Homo sapiens: one gene and its partners. The protein of the gene in region 1 interacts with the protein of each later gene in a biochemical or structural test. Each region holds a gene or a part of one and is shown in the gene's direction. Other genes may lie near its edges.

Region 1 (3,500 bases):
TTTAACTCCCTTACACACACACAAAAGAAAAAACAGTAAAAAAGAATTGTCTTTTAAGGCTGTTCATATTAATACTGTCACCTAAAGTAAAAGATGGCTTTCTTTGGGGATCATTTTCAAAAGGAAATTGCTTGTTTGTTGTTTTTAAATCATTTCTGGAGCGAAAGAGAAAATACTGTCCTAAACTCTTACCTGGGTTCATTTACTAGCTAAGTGACTTTGGCCAGTTTTAAGTTTGTACTTTAACCAGATGGCAAATTATTATTTGGTAAGAAGTTTGTTTCTCTCTCAAATAGTTGAAACTGTAGCAGTAAGTCTTCGCATGTGAAAAGCCTACTATAGAATAGCATTCTCTCTTTTGTTTTGCTTTTATTTTTAGTTTTATTTCTTTTTAAAACAAGGTCTCACTCTTTTGATTAGGCTGGAGTGCAGTGGCATGACCTGGGCTCACTGCAGCCTTACTTCCTGGGCTCAAGTGATCCTCCTGCCTTAGTGTAGCTGGGACCACACTCACTTACCACCAAGGCTGGCTAATTTTTTATTTATTTTTTTATCGTAGAGATGAGGTCTTACTTTGTTGCCCAGGCTGATGTCAAACTCCAAGGCTCAAGCGATCCTCCCCCTTGGCCTCCCAAAGTGCTGGGATTACAGGCACGAGCCACTGTGTCCCACCAGCATTCTCTTTTAAAACATCAGTTGGATCTCATTTTATGACAAAGTGATAGAAGGGGGATGTGTTATATGAATAGTAAGTTTACTTACAGAAATGAATGTGTGTGTAAATCTATATATATATATTTTTTTCTTTCTCTTTTTCAGCACTCTGTTTTCTACAGTGGACACTGATGAAATACCAGCCAAAAGACCAAGATTAGGTACTGAATATAAATTTTAAAAATTTTTAGTTTTTAAATAGGAAAAATATATGCATGGAACAAAATTCAAAAGGTAAAAAGTATCTGGTAAAAAGTAAGTCTTGGCCGGGCGCAGTGGCTGTAATCCTAGCACTTTGGGAGGCCAAGGCAGGCGGATCACCTGAGGTCAGGAGTTTGAGACCAGCCTGGCCAACATGGCAAAACCCTGTCTCTACTAAAAATACAAAAATTAGCTTGCTGTGGTGGCAGGAGCTTGTAATCCCAGCTACTCGGGAGGCTGAGGCAGGAGAATCGCTTGAACCTGGGAGGTGGAGGTTGCTGTGAGCCAAGATGGTGCCATTGCACTTCAGCCTGGGGCGACAGAGCAGGACTGTGTCAGGAAAAAAAAAAACAAAAAAACTTAAGTCTCTTTCCTGGCCCGACGTGGTGGCTCAAACCTTTAATTCCAGCACTTCAGAGGCTGAGGTGGGAGGATCACTTGAGGTCAGGAGTTTGAGACCAGCCTGGCCAACATGGTGAAACCCCATCTCTACTAAACATTAAAAAATTAGCCAAGTGGTGCACGCCTATAGTCACAGCTACTCGGGAGGCTGAGGCACGAGAATCGCGTGAACCTGGGAGGCGGAGGTTGCAGTGAGCCAAGAATCTGCTACTGCACTCTGCACTCCAGCCTGGGCGACAGAGCGACACTCCATCTCAAAAAAAAAAAAAAAAAAAAAAAAGAAAGTCTCCTTTTTTTTTTTTTTTTTTTTTTTGAGACAGAGTCTTGCTCTGTCGCAGGCTGGAGTGCAGTGGCGCAATCTCGGCTCACTGCAAGCTCTGCCTCCCAGGTTCACGCCATTCTCCTGCCTCAGCCTCCCGAGTAGCTGGGATTACAGGCACCCACCACCACACCTGGCTAGTTTTTTTGTATTTTTAGTAGAGATGGGGTTTCACCGTGTTAGCCAGGATGGTCTCCATCTCCTGACCTCGTGATCTGCCCGCCTCGGCCTCCCAAAGTGCTGGGGTTACAGGCGTGAGCCACCGCACCCAACCCAAGAAAGTCTCTTTCCTATCCCTTTCTTATCTTTTCTAGAGGTAACTACTGTTACCAGGGACTTGTCTAATCCTTGCAGGTAAATAAGCCTAGGTGTAGACTGTGCATTTTAAAATTCTAAATCATTCTACAAAGAAAAGATACTTCTTATTTATTTATTTTTTGAGATGGAGTCTCGCTCTGTCACCCAGGCTGGAGTGTAGTGGTGCAATCTCGACTCACTGCAACCTCCACCTCCCGGGTTCACACCATTCTCCTGCCTCAGCCTCCTGAGTAGCTGGGACTACAGGCGCCCGCCATCATGCCCGGCTAATTTTTTGTATTTTTAGTAGAGACGGGGTTTCACCATGTTAGCCAGGATAGTCTCAGTCTCCTGACTTCGTGATCCACCTGCCTCAGCCTCCCAAAGTGCTGGGATTACAGGCGTGAGCCCCCGCGCCTGGCCCTACTTATTTTTAAGGAGGAAATGTTGTAAATGTTTCAAACTGAGGTGACTCTAGTTCAGATGGCTGAGGGAACCCATCTTTTCTATTTTTTTTTTTCGAGACAGGGTCTCATTCTGTCACCCAGGCTGGGATGCAGTGGCATAATCATGGCTCACTGCAGCCTCCACCTCCCTGGGCCCAGGTGATCCTTCCATCTCAGCCTCCCAAGTAGTTGGTTGGGCCTACAGGCACGTTATCACACCTAGCTGATTTTTGTATTTTTTTTGTAGAAACAGGGTCTTGCCACATTGTCCAGGCTGAAAATAGGCAGCAGTGGCATTTTGAAAGAATACTCCTGTCTTTAAGAACCGGTAATATTTCTTTTTTTTTTTTTTTTTTTTTTTGAGACAGGATCTTGCTCTGTCTTGATCTTGTCATCAACAATTTTTTTTTTTAATTTTGTAAGAGGCAAGGGTATCACTGTGTTGCCCAGGCTTCAGTGCAGTGGCACGATCGTAGCTCACTGCAGTCTCAAACTCCTGGGCTCACACAATCCTCCTGCCTCAGTCTCCTGAGTAGCTGGGACTATAGGCCCATACCACCACACCTGGCAAATTATTTTGTATGTGGATACTGAGTCTCCATATGTTGCCCAGGCTGATCTTGGAACTCCTGCCCTTCCAAAGTGCCGGGATTATGGATATGAGCCACTGTGCCCAGCCAAGTCTTTTACTTCAGTATATCTGAATGGATAAAGAAAATAAAAGTAGATTAAAGGAAAAAGGCATAGTAAAATGCTATAATAATATATTCCTCTTTCTCAAAAATGATTATAAATTTGGGTCTACCTCCAGATGTGGTAATTGAGTGTGGACATATTTGTGTTAATATTTCGTTTAAATTCAGTGAGTACTTATTGAGCATGTCTCAGTGCTAACCAATGTGTTAGGTTTTACAGAAAATACAAAAATTAGTAAGACAGGGTCTCCTTTTTTTTTTTTTTTGAGATGGAGTCTTGCTCTGTTGCTCAGGCTGGAGTGCAATGGCACATTCTCGGCCCACTGCAACCTCCGCCTCCCAGGTTCAAGTGATTCCCCTGCCTCAGCTTCCCAAGTAGCTGGGACTACAGGTGCCCACCACCACACCCGGCTAATTTTTGTATTT
Region 2 (3,500 bases), on another chromosome or scaffold:
CCAAGATCACGCCATTGCACTCCAGCCTGGGCAAGAAGAGCCAAACTCCGTCTCAAAAAAAAAAAAAAAAAAAAAAAATCAGTGACAGGGAGCTGTAAGTTTCTAGAACATTGGCTTTGGGCTTATAAAGAGGGGAGTTGTTCATTTCACAGATGACTCTGAAGAAAGATTGTAAAGTTAAAGGAATGTGTGCTCTATTAGAGATTTTTAAAACAAAACAGTAAAATGCAAAGGAAAAGTAAATACAGTTGTTCCTTGACTTATGATGGAGTTAGGTCCCAATAAACACATTGTAAAGTGGAGAAATCATCAAACCATCATGAGCAGGGGACCATTTGTATATTATACCTCTCTCCAGAGATAGCCATCATTAATTATTGTACATGTGTGTTCTCAGACAAGTCACTTGATTCTTAAGTCAGTCTCCTCATGTGTAAAGTGGGAATACCAATACCTGGGCTAGCTTCTTAGAGTTGGTGTGAGGTGCAAATGGGAAAGGTTTTGTAAGCTATAAAGGACCATCCAAATATTTAAAATCAATAGTTGCTTGTTAGAAATGAAATTTTCATGAATCTTTGGACCAAACAAGTTTTGACTTAATTCACTTTTCCTTTTGTTCCTTGTCAGAATGAGAACGTCCACAGGTCTGTGAAGCCGCAGATTCTGTCAGTGTTTGGTGATATTGCCCTTGCTATTGGAGGAGAGTTTAAAAAATACTTAGAGGTTGTATTGAATACTCTTCAGCAGGCCTCCCAAGCCCAGGTGGACAAGGTAAGCTTAAAGCTATCTTGGCTGTTCTTTAAGTCTAGCTCTAATTGGAGGGACTATTGACAAACATGCAGCTAAAAGTGATCAGTGTGATGTAGGTTCTGTTCTTTGTGTCTTACAGTCAGACTATGACATGGTGGATTATCTGAATGAGCTAAGGGAAAGCTGCTTGGAAGCCTATACTGGAATCGTCCAGGGATTAAAGGGGGATCAGGAGAACGTACACCGTTGAGTATACAACCCAGTTCCCTTCGTCCGCTCGCCAATGTGCACTTAGCCAAGTGGGCTATGTCTGTCATTCTGTAGCTCGCTTGTGAACCTAGTGCCTGTTGCTTAAAAGGCTGGGAGAAGGGGGAGCAGTGCCCTAATGAAGAGAGTGGCTTGGGGAAAACTGTAGACTACTGTTTTTGCTCTGCTTCTTCTTTCTTTTTTTTGTTTTGAGACGGAGTCTCACTCTGTTGCCCAGGCTGGAGTGCAGTCGTGCAATCTCGGCTCACTGCAACCTCCACCTCCCAGGTTCAAGCAGTTCTCCTGCCTCAGCCTCCTGAGTAGCTGGAACTATACACATCTGCCACTATGCCTGGCTAATTTTTATATTTTTAGTAGAGGCAAGCTTTCACCTTGTTGGTCAGGCTGGTCTTGAACTCCTGATCTCAATTGATCCACCCGCCTTGGTCTCCCAAAGTGCTGGGATTACAGGCTTGAGCCACTGTGCCCAGCCTTTTAAATTTATTTTATTTTATTTTTATTTTTTGGAGACAGTCTCACTCTCACCCAAGCTGGAGTGCAGTGGAGCGATCACAGCTCACTGCAGTCTTCACTTCCTGGGTTCAAGTGATTCTTATGCCTCAGCTTCCTGAGTAGCTGGGACTACAGGCACACACCACCATGCCCAGCTATTTTTTTTTTTTTTGTATTTTAGTAGAGATGGGATTTCACCATGTTTTGCAGGCTGCTCTCGAACTCCTGAGCTCAGGCAATCTCCCACCTTGGGCTCCCAAAGTGATGGGATTTCAGGCGTGAGCCACTGCACCCAGCCCTCTGCTTCTTTTTCTCATATTTCTTGAGTATTACAAGGGATGGGATTCAGCAAAAATGTTGGGGGGAAGAAACCCAACATAAATGCTTCCTGTATCAACCATGAGTGGCAGGTCCCCTACCCCTTTCCCATCCCCACAAGCTAAATTGGAGGACTGGGGAGTCATAATTCCCGTTACGTGTTCTTGTTGCTGATTGGGGAAATTTTTTACTTCACCCCCCTTGGTATCATTAGCTCAGGAAAAAGTTAAATTTGTTTCTTCTATATTTGCCTATAGGAAGAGGAATATTTGTCTCTTCTGTCGACTTGAGGAACGACACATTAATCAAAGGAAGAATAATTTGATATAACTATATGCATCTAGTTATCCAGCTTGGACCTTGTATGATAGGGGTATAATAGTTGGAAATTTTGAAAAAGGATGTAGTCCTGCCATATGAGGGACAGCTGCATCAGACCTTCTCTCTCTTTTTTTTTTCTTTTTTTTTTGAGATGGAATCTTGCTCTGTCGCCTAGGCTGGAGCGCAGTGGCGCAATCTCGGCTCACTGCAAGCTCCGCCTCCTGGGTTCACGCCATTTTCCTACCTCAGCCTCCTGAGTAGCTGGGACTACAGGCGCCCGCCACCACGCCCGGCTAATTTTTTTGTATTTTTAGTAGAGACGGGGTTTCACCGAGTTAGCCAGGATGGTCTCGATCTTCTGACCTTGTGATCCACCCGCCTGGGCCTCCTAAAGTGCTGGGTTTACAGGCATGAGCCACCGCACCCGACCAATACCTTCTCTCTCTTTTATAGCGGATGTGATGCTGGTACAACCCAGAGTAGAATTTATTCTGTCTTTCATTGACCACATTGCTGGAGATGAGGATCACACAGATGGAGTAGTAGCTTGTGCTGCTGGACTAATAGGGTAAGTTATACCCTGCTTCTAAGAGCTGAATAGAACTTCTCACAGAAAATGAGAAAACATGGAGTAAGGAGTTTTGAGAGTATCGCGGATGGCAACAGTTCACTTTTTTGGCACAGAGATTTCTTTGCAGAACGCTTCATGTCCTGTTTTGAGTGTTCACATGATAGTTTATTCCAGACCCTCAAGGTGTCTGTATTACACCCCATTAAACTCTGATGTTGGTCAACAATTGCCTCTGTCTAGTGACCTCTACTGAGGGTTTTATTTATCTTTGAAATTTGCTAAGAAACCCATAGCACTGGTTTGGAAGGCTCAAAACATTATACTGGTATGGGGCTAGGAGCTCATTCTCAGCTGTGTTTGTTTTGCACAGGGACTTATGTACAGCATTTGGGAAGGATGTACTGAAATTAGTAGAAGCTAGGCCAATGATCCATGAATTGTTAACTGAAGGGCGGAGATCGAAGACTAACAAAGCAAAAACCCTTGCTACATGGGCAACAAAAGAACTGAGGAAACTGAAGAACCAAGCTTGGTAAGATCTTGCCTCCACTGTCCTCTTTCTTCTACTTCCTGGAGGAGGGGGGTATGTTTTCTTTAGGCCATTCTGGCAAGCACTGCCTTCTGGCATTTTTTTTGTTTGTACTTTTTCCCATGTAGGTGCTTCTGAGTCAGGCAGCCTCAGTTTTTCCTTGAGCCAAATGTTTGACTCCTCATAGTGATGGAGAGCAGAACTTTTAAAACTGGAATTCACTGAAATTCCCTGAGTATTTTGGGTCCTAAT
Region 3 (3,500 bases), on another chromosome or scaffold:
CCTGCTGGGCACGGCCTGATGATTCAGGAGGCAGATTTGATCCCTGTAGATCTGCTGATCTGGCCTTTCAGGAATAGTCTCTCTGGAGGGACTTCCCAGGCCACAGGGACAGCAGCCCTGGCCTTCCTAGGGGAGGCAGCTGAGCTCATGGTTATACTTAGAGCCACTCGAGAGCACCTGGGTGTGGCCACAGGGGAGCGGTCAGACGCCCCAGCCAGGCCACTGGGGTCCTCTCAGGCCACGGCTTCTCCATCCCCCAGACACCTCTTCCTGTGCCTCTCACCTCTTCTCCAAGACTTCACATTCCCCCACAGCAGGAGGCAGCTTAGAGCCTTCTCCCTGGGTCCCTGGGCCTGTGAGGGCCCACCACCCTGTCCGTGCAGTAAGCCGTAGCCACCCCCTTTCCATACTCTCTCTTCCCTACTCCCCACTCTTCTCTAGGTCTCTCTCTTCTAGACGTCTCCAACTCTATTTCTTTTTTTGTCCCTTCTTTCTTAGAAACAAGCCCCTCCTCTGTCAGTTCCTTGCTGTGTGTTTTGGGCAGCTCACTTGCCTGCTGTTGGCCTCACCTGTAAAATAAGGGATGCAGTATCTTTCTAATATCCTCTACTCTGGAGCTGAGCTATACCCGAAAGAGGGGCCAGATCCCTACTGGAGGCTCTTTCTAGCAGAGAGGGGAGGGAGGAAGCCATGTTGCTGCCATGCCCCAGTGGGTAGGCCCTGAGGCTATTTGTGTCTCTCCTCTCCTGACCCCCACACCCCCATCTAGACTGAACTGAATAACTGTATCTCCATGCTGGTGGCGGGGAATGACCGTGTGCAGACCATCATCACTCAGCTGGAGGATTCCCGTCGAGTGACCAAGGTGAGCGGACAGAATAGTCCTGCCTGGGGATTTGGAGCTTTCCAGGGCAGCCTGGTCTCTGGGGAAGGCTCACCCATAGGTTGTGGCTAAAGGTTGGGGCCCGGAGCCTGGGGCGGTCAAGCAGGGATGGCAGGGGAGGGACTAATCCATTCATCCAGTCTCTCAACAAATGCTTCTTAAGCACAGCTGTGTGTCCGGCCCCACCCAAGATGTGGGGGATGGAGGAGTGAACCAGACAGACGTGGTCCCTGAGCTCAGGGAGTGTCCCATCAATAATTCTCAGTATTTATTCAGCACAAATTGTTTTCAGAGCACAGTTCTTCAGTGTGCTGTAGACCAACACTTCCCAAACTTTGAAGTGCGTGAAAATTACGCTGGGATCATGTTGAAATTCAGGTTTTGATTCAGTTGGTTTGGAATGAGGCATAAGAGCTGCATTTCTAGCCAGTTCCCAGGATTTGCCCAAGCTGCTGGGTCCACAGACCACATGTTGAGTAGTGAGACTGTTGAGGGCAGAAGGGAACTTTTCTATCCCTGAAAAAAGCTTCCACGATTTTCCATGTTCACTTGGGGTAGGGATCTGGAGATGAGATGAGGGGAAGGGGTCATCATAATTGCTAGTGGATGAAGAGTTGGGCGAAGGGTAGGAAGGAGGGGAACATTGTGATCACCCACGAGAGGCTCCCGGTCTGATGAGATGCTATTGTCACACCCATTTTATAGAAAAGAACATAGAGAGAAGGGAGCTTCGGTTGAGGAGGGTGCTAGGAAAGGAGCTGTTTTTCCACCTCTCCTAGGACCAAATGATGCAGAGCTTCCCGAATCCAGTCTTGGTCCTGAAAGGGAGGGAAGAGTGTGAACTGGGACATATGGGAGGCCCAGGAAACGTTAATTTGTTGAAGGTCACACAGCTAAAAGGGAAACACAGCTAAAAGGCAACAGAGAGCTGGGCACAGTGGCTCATGCCTATAATCCCAGCACTTTGGGAGGTCAAGCTGGGTGGATCATGAGGTCAGGAGATCGAGACCATCCTGGCCAACATGGTGAAACCCCATCTCTACTAAAAATACAAAAAAATAGCCAGGCGTGGTAGCGTATCTATAATCCCAGCTACTCGGGAGGCTGAGGCAGGAGAATCGCTTGAACCTGGGAGGTGGAGGTTGCAGTGAGCCAAGATCGCACCACTGCACTCCAGCGGGGGCAACAGAGCGAGACTCCATCTCAAAAAAAAAAAAAAAAAAAGGGCAACAGAGAAAGACAGGGCAGATCCCACATTGGGTGACTGTTGCATTGGTCTAAGAGGTGATGCTCCAATGACCAGCTGAGGTTGGGGGACAGGGGGAGGGTGCAGGAACAAGGAAGAACATGTTGTGTCATGTGACCCTAGAGCCTCTATTTTGGAAGAAGGGGCTAGCTGTTTTTCAAGGCATCATCCTCCAAATATCACTGGCGTACTAAATAGCTGTGAGGCCAGATGAGTGTTTTCTTCTTGTTAAGTCTTTGTTTCTTCTTCTGTAGTGTGGGGATGTATGTAGTGAGATCTCTTCTAGCTTTAGATTCCTTGCTACTGTCCTAGGAAGGCAGTGTAGTGGGCAGGGAATAAAGACCCTACAGAACGTGACCACAAGACTTCCGTCCTCAGGAGAACAGTCACCAGGTAAAGGAAGAGCTGAGCCAGAAGTTTGACACGTTGTATGCCATCCTGGATGAGAAGAAAAGTGAGTTGCTGCAGCGGATCACGCAGGAGCAGGAGAAAAAGCTTAGCTTCATCGAGGCCCTCATCCAGCAGTACCAGGAGCAGCTGGACAAGTCCACAAAGCTGGTGGAAACTGCCATCCAGTCCCTGGACGAGCCTGGGGGAGCCACCTTCCTCTTGGTGAGCAGGACTAGAAGGGTCTGGGTGGGGTCAGTTCAACTCTACAGCTCTAAGGTTCAAGTTATGCTTCCCCACTGACCACCCATGGGCCCTTGGAAAAGCCATTTAAACCTCTGTGAGCCTCAGTTTCCTCATCTGTCAAATGGGCATGTAACACCCCCCACCTTCCTCTTACTGATTTTATGATGATAAGATAAGAGGATGTTTATGAAATGACTTTGTAAGCTGCAAAATACAGTGTCCCATCTACAGACTATTAATTGAGCCCCTACTGTAGGCCAGGCACTGAGGTGGAAGACAAGGAGATAAACCAGACACAGCCCTGCCCTCAAAGAGCTTGTTGGGGAGGACAGAAAAGGCTCAGTTATAAGACTTCATAGTTCAGTTCAATAAAAATGTTCTAGGCTTCTACTGTGGGCCAGGCTTTTTGCTAGACATTAGGTATGAAAAGGTGGTTAGGATTGGGGAGTTCAGGGTTTAGGAGTTTTGGGATTGATACCCCTAGAATCCAAGCTTCCTGTCAAGACAGTGGGTCCTAGGGTGATGACCAAGACCTGTACAGACCACAGACAGAGGGAAAAGTTCCAGATTCTGCTCAGTTTGGGGTGGGGAGCAGGTCACAACTGGGCTAGGGAATGGCACCAAATATCTACCTACAACACCTAGTTCACTAGTTTTGCTGATTTCCTGCGGTTACCTCTTCTGCGGTCCTAATCCTTTGTTCTCTCTCCCCCTGCAGACTGCCAAGCAACTCATCAA
Region 4 (2,694 bases), on another chromosome or scaffold:
GGGTTTTGCCATGTTGGCCACGCTGGTCTCGAACTCCTGACCTCAGGTGATCTGCCCGCCTCGGCCTCCCAAACTGCTAGGATTATAGGTGTGAGCCACAGCGCCTGGCCGGATATGTTTCTATTTCTATGGAGAATGTCATTGGTATTTTTGGTAGGGATTGCATTGAATCCATAGATTGCTTTGAGTAGTATGGCCATTTTAACAATAATAGTTCTTCTGATCCATGAATATAGGATGTCTTTACATTTGTTTGTGTTCTCTTTAATTTCTTTCATCAGTTTTTAGTTTAAAAATATAGAACACTTCACAAATTTGGGTGTCATCCTTGTGCAGGGGGCCATGCTAATCTTCTTTGTTCAAGTTTTGGGTATGTGCTGCTGAAGTAAGCACTGAAAGAACTTTTCTCACAGGGTCTTTTAACCTGTTCCTCCTACCAGGCTTTCTTGGCTTGCTGTTTAACTGTGCTCTTGGGAAACCTCTTTTTACCATTCTTTTGGAGATTCCTTTTAGCTTCGTAGAGGAACCCGTTTCCTGGGTGTCATGTCTTTCCTGTTACTCCCCTATTTTCTGATACAGCACATCTTCCAGTGATTCTTGAGGGTTCAGGGATGGAAAACATTGAGGCCATACATCTCTGCAGGGATCTTTATTCTCTCCCCATGTTTGGTAAGATTTTGATTGAATATAGATGTAGATTGGAAATCATTTTTATAATTTTGAAAGCATTTCTCCATTGTAGACTTTTCTGGCTTCCAGAGTTGCCTGAAGTCTTGATCTTTGCTCTTTGGCCTGTTTCTTCTTTCTGGAATTGTTAGACTCTCCTCTTTTGCCTCCATTGTTCTGATACATCAGGATGTGTCTTGATGTGGGTTTGTTTTTATCGTTTGTGTAGGGAGTGCAGCATGCTCTTTTGTGAACTTCCATTTTGGGGAATTTTCCTGAATTATTTATTTGAAGATTTTGTCCCCTAATCCTTCCTTTCCTTCTTACCTTTTGTCTTTGTGTCATACTTTCTCAGATTTATCTTTCATTACCATTCTGTTGAGATTTTAACTTCTGCTGGGCGCAGTGGCTCACGCCTGTAATCCCAGCACTTTGGGAGGCCAAGGCGGGCAGATCACGAGGTCAGGATATCGAGACCATCCTGGCTAACACGGTGAAACCCCATCTCTACTAAGAAATACAAAAAATTAGCCAGGCGTGGTGGCGGGCGCCTGTAGTCCCAGCTACTCAGGAGACTGAGGCAGGAGAATGGCGTGAACTCGGGAGGTGGAGCTTGCAGTGAGCTGAGACCGTGCCACTGCACTCCAGCCTGGGCAACAGAGCCAGACTCCATCTTTAAAAAAAAAAAAAAAAAAAAGAGAGATTTTAACTTCCACTATTTCTTTAATTTCTAAGTATTCTTTTTTATTTTCTGGATGTTTCCTTTTTATGCCCCTCTGGGTTCCCCCCCACCCAACTCTCCAGTGGATGAAGTATTCATTAAAGATATGGAGTTCAGATTTTTCTCCTTAAAATTTTGTTTCTTTGCTGAGTCAGTTTTCCCAAAATTGCTTTTATTATTTTTGTCTCAGTGTTTCTTATTAAATACTGTCCTCAAATGCCTGGTACTCCTTGGCTACCTGTAGTTGTTATGAGTGTAGGACACGTAAATACCACTTAAATCCTTTCTACATTGATAGGGCTTACAGATCTTGAATTTCATTGTAGATTTATCTGGTTTATCTAGCATTATTTTACTTGGGAAAGTTTGGATGTTAGTATCCTTCATTCTTTTCACTTAGTCTGTCAGATACCCCAAAGAAGATGCATCCAGTCTCCTGCATGGAGGGTATCAGAGAACTTCATTTGCCAGTGTTCTGGGAGCTAAGATTGGGAAGATGGCTGGAGCGCTCGGTATTTTGTGAATATCGAGCTACACTTAATTCCTGTTTTCAAAATGATATTCTTGCCCTTAACTGTATGTGGTGTCTCCCAGTCCAGACACTTCTACAAAGACTAAAACACTAAACTTCTGTTCTGGTGCGGTGGAAGAGGAGAATTACCATCTTTTTTTTCTTTTTTTTTCTTTTCCTTCTGAGATAGGGTCTCACTCTGTTTCCCAGGCTGGAAGGCAGTGGCAGAGTCAGGGCACACTGCGTCCTCGACCTCCTAGGCTCAGAAGATCTTCCCACCTCAGCCTCCTGAGTAGCTGGGATTACAGGTGCACGCCACTACGCCTGGCTAATTTTGAAAAATTTTTTATAGAGATAGGATCTCGCCATGTTGCCTAGGTTGTTCTCAAACTCCTGGGCTCAAGCAGTCCACCTGCCTTGGCCTCCCAAAGTGCTAGGATTATACGCATGAGTCACTGCACCCACTGATAATTACCATCTTTGTGTTGGTGTTGGGAGGGATTGATTCTGGGTATCTGCTTCTAAACATACTCTGCCATCCTTTTTTTTTTTTTTTTTTTTTAATTCCCACTACATCCTCACTTCCATAGGTATCTGGAACCTAAACATTTTGGGTATGTTTGGTGTAAATGCAATTGCTTCTGTTCTTTCCCTACTGCTCGTTTAGTATCAACTCTAGTCAGCCTTCCAGCTTCTAAACCTATATCTTTGTAAAAATCCCTTGTTGTTTTAATGCACTTTTCAAAGAAGATAGAGCTAAGTGTATTTGTTGATTTCACTGTCTTTAACCATAAGT

Evidence for each region. The genes of interacting proteins can lie anywhere in the genome.
Region 2: the proteins of SENP2 (region 1) and KPNB1 form a complex in vitro, tested with the Homo sapiens proteins (one study listed by BioGRID).
Region 3: of the proteins of SENP2 (region 1) and TRIM63, one has a biochemical effect on the other in vitro, tested with the Homo sapiens proteins (one large-scale study listed by BioGRID).
Region 4: the proteins of SENP2 (region 1) and NUP153 form a complex in vitro, tested with the Homo sapiens proteins (2 studies listed by BioGRID).

Annotation. Positions count from the first base shown.
Region 1 is NC_000003.12:185,589,295-185,592,794, forward strand, and holds part of SENP2 (sentrin-specific protease 2), read left to right. Parts: intron 1-819; coding exon 820-875; intron 876-3,500. UniProt on the Homo sapiens protein: Protease that catalyzes two essential functions in the SUMO pathway.
Region 2 is NC_000017.11:47,677,419-47,680,918, forward strand, and holds part of KPNB1 (importin subunit beta-1), read left to right. Parts: intron 1-627; coding exon 628-771; intron 772-889; coding exon 890-995; intron 996-2,601; coding exon 2,602-2,716; intron 2,717-3,089; coding exon 3,090-3,251; intron 3,252-3,500.
Region 3 is NC_000001.11:26,057,631-26,061,130, reverse strand, and holds part of TRIM63 (E3 ubiquitin-protein ligase TRIM63), read left to right. Parts: intron 1-769; coding exon 770-865; intron 866-2,507; coding exon 2,508-2,741; intron 2,742-3,480; coding exon 3,481-3,500. UniProt on the Homo sapiens protein: E3 ubiquitin ligase. Mediates the ubiquitination and subsequent proteasomal degradation of CKM, GMEB1 and HIBADH.
Region 4 is NC_000006.12:17,617,232-17,619,925, reverse strand, and holds part of NUP153 (nuclear pore complex protein Nup153), read left to right. Parts: intron 1-2,694. UniProt on the Homo sapiens protein: Component of the nuclear pore complex (NPC), a complex required for the trafficking across the nuclear envelope. Functions as a scaffolding element in the nuclear phase of the NPC essential for normal nucleocytoplasmic transport of proteins and mRNAs.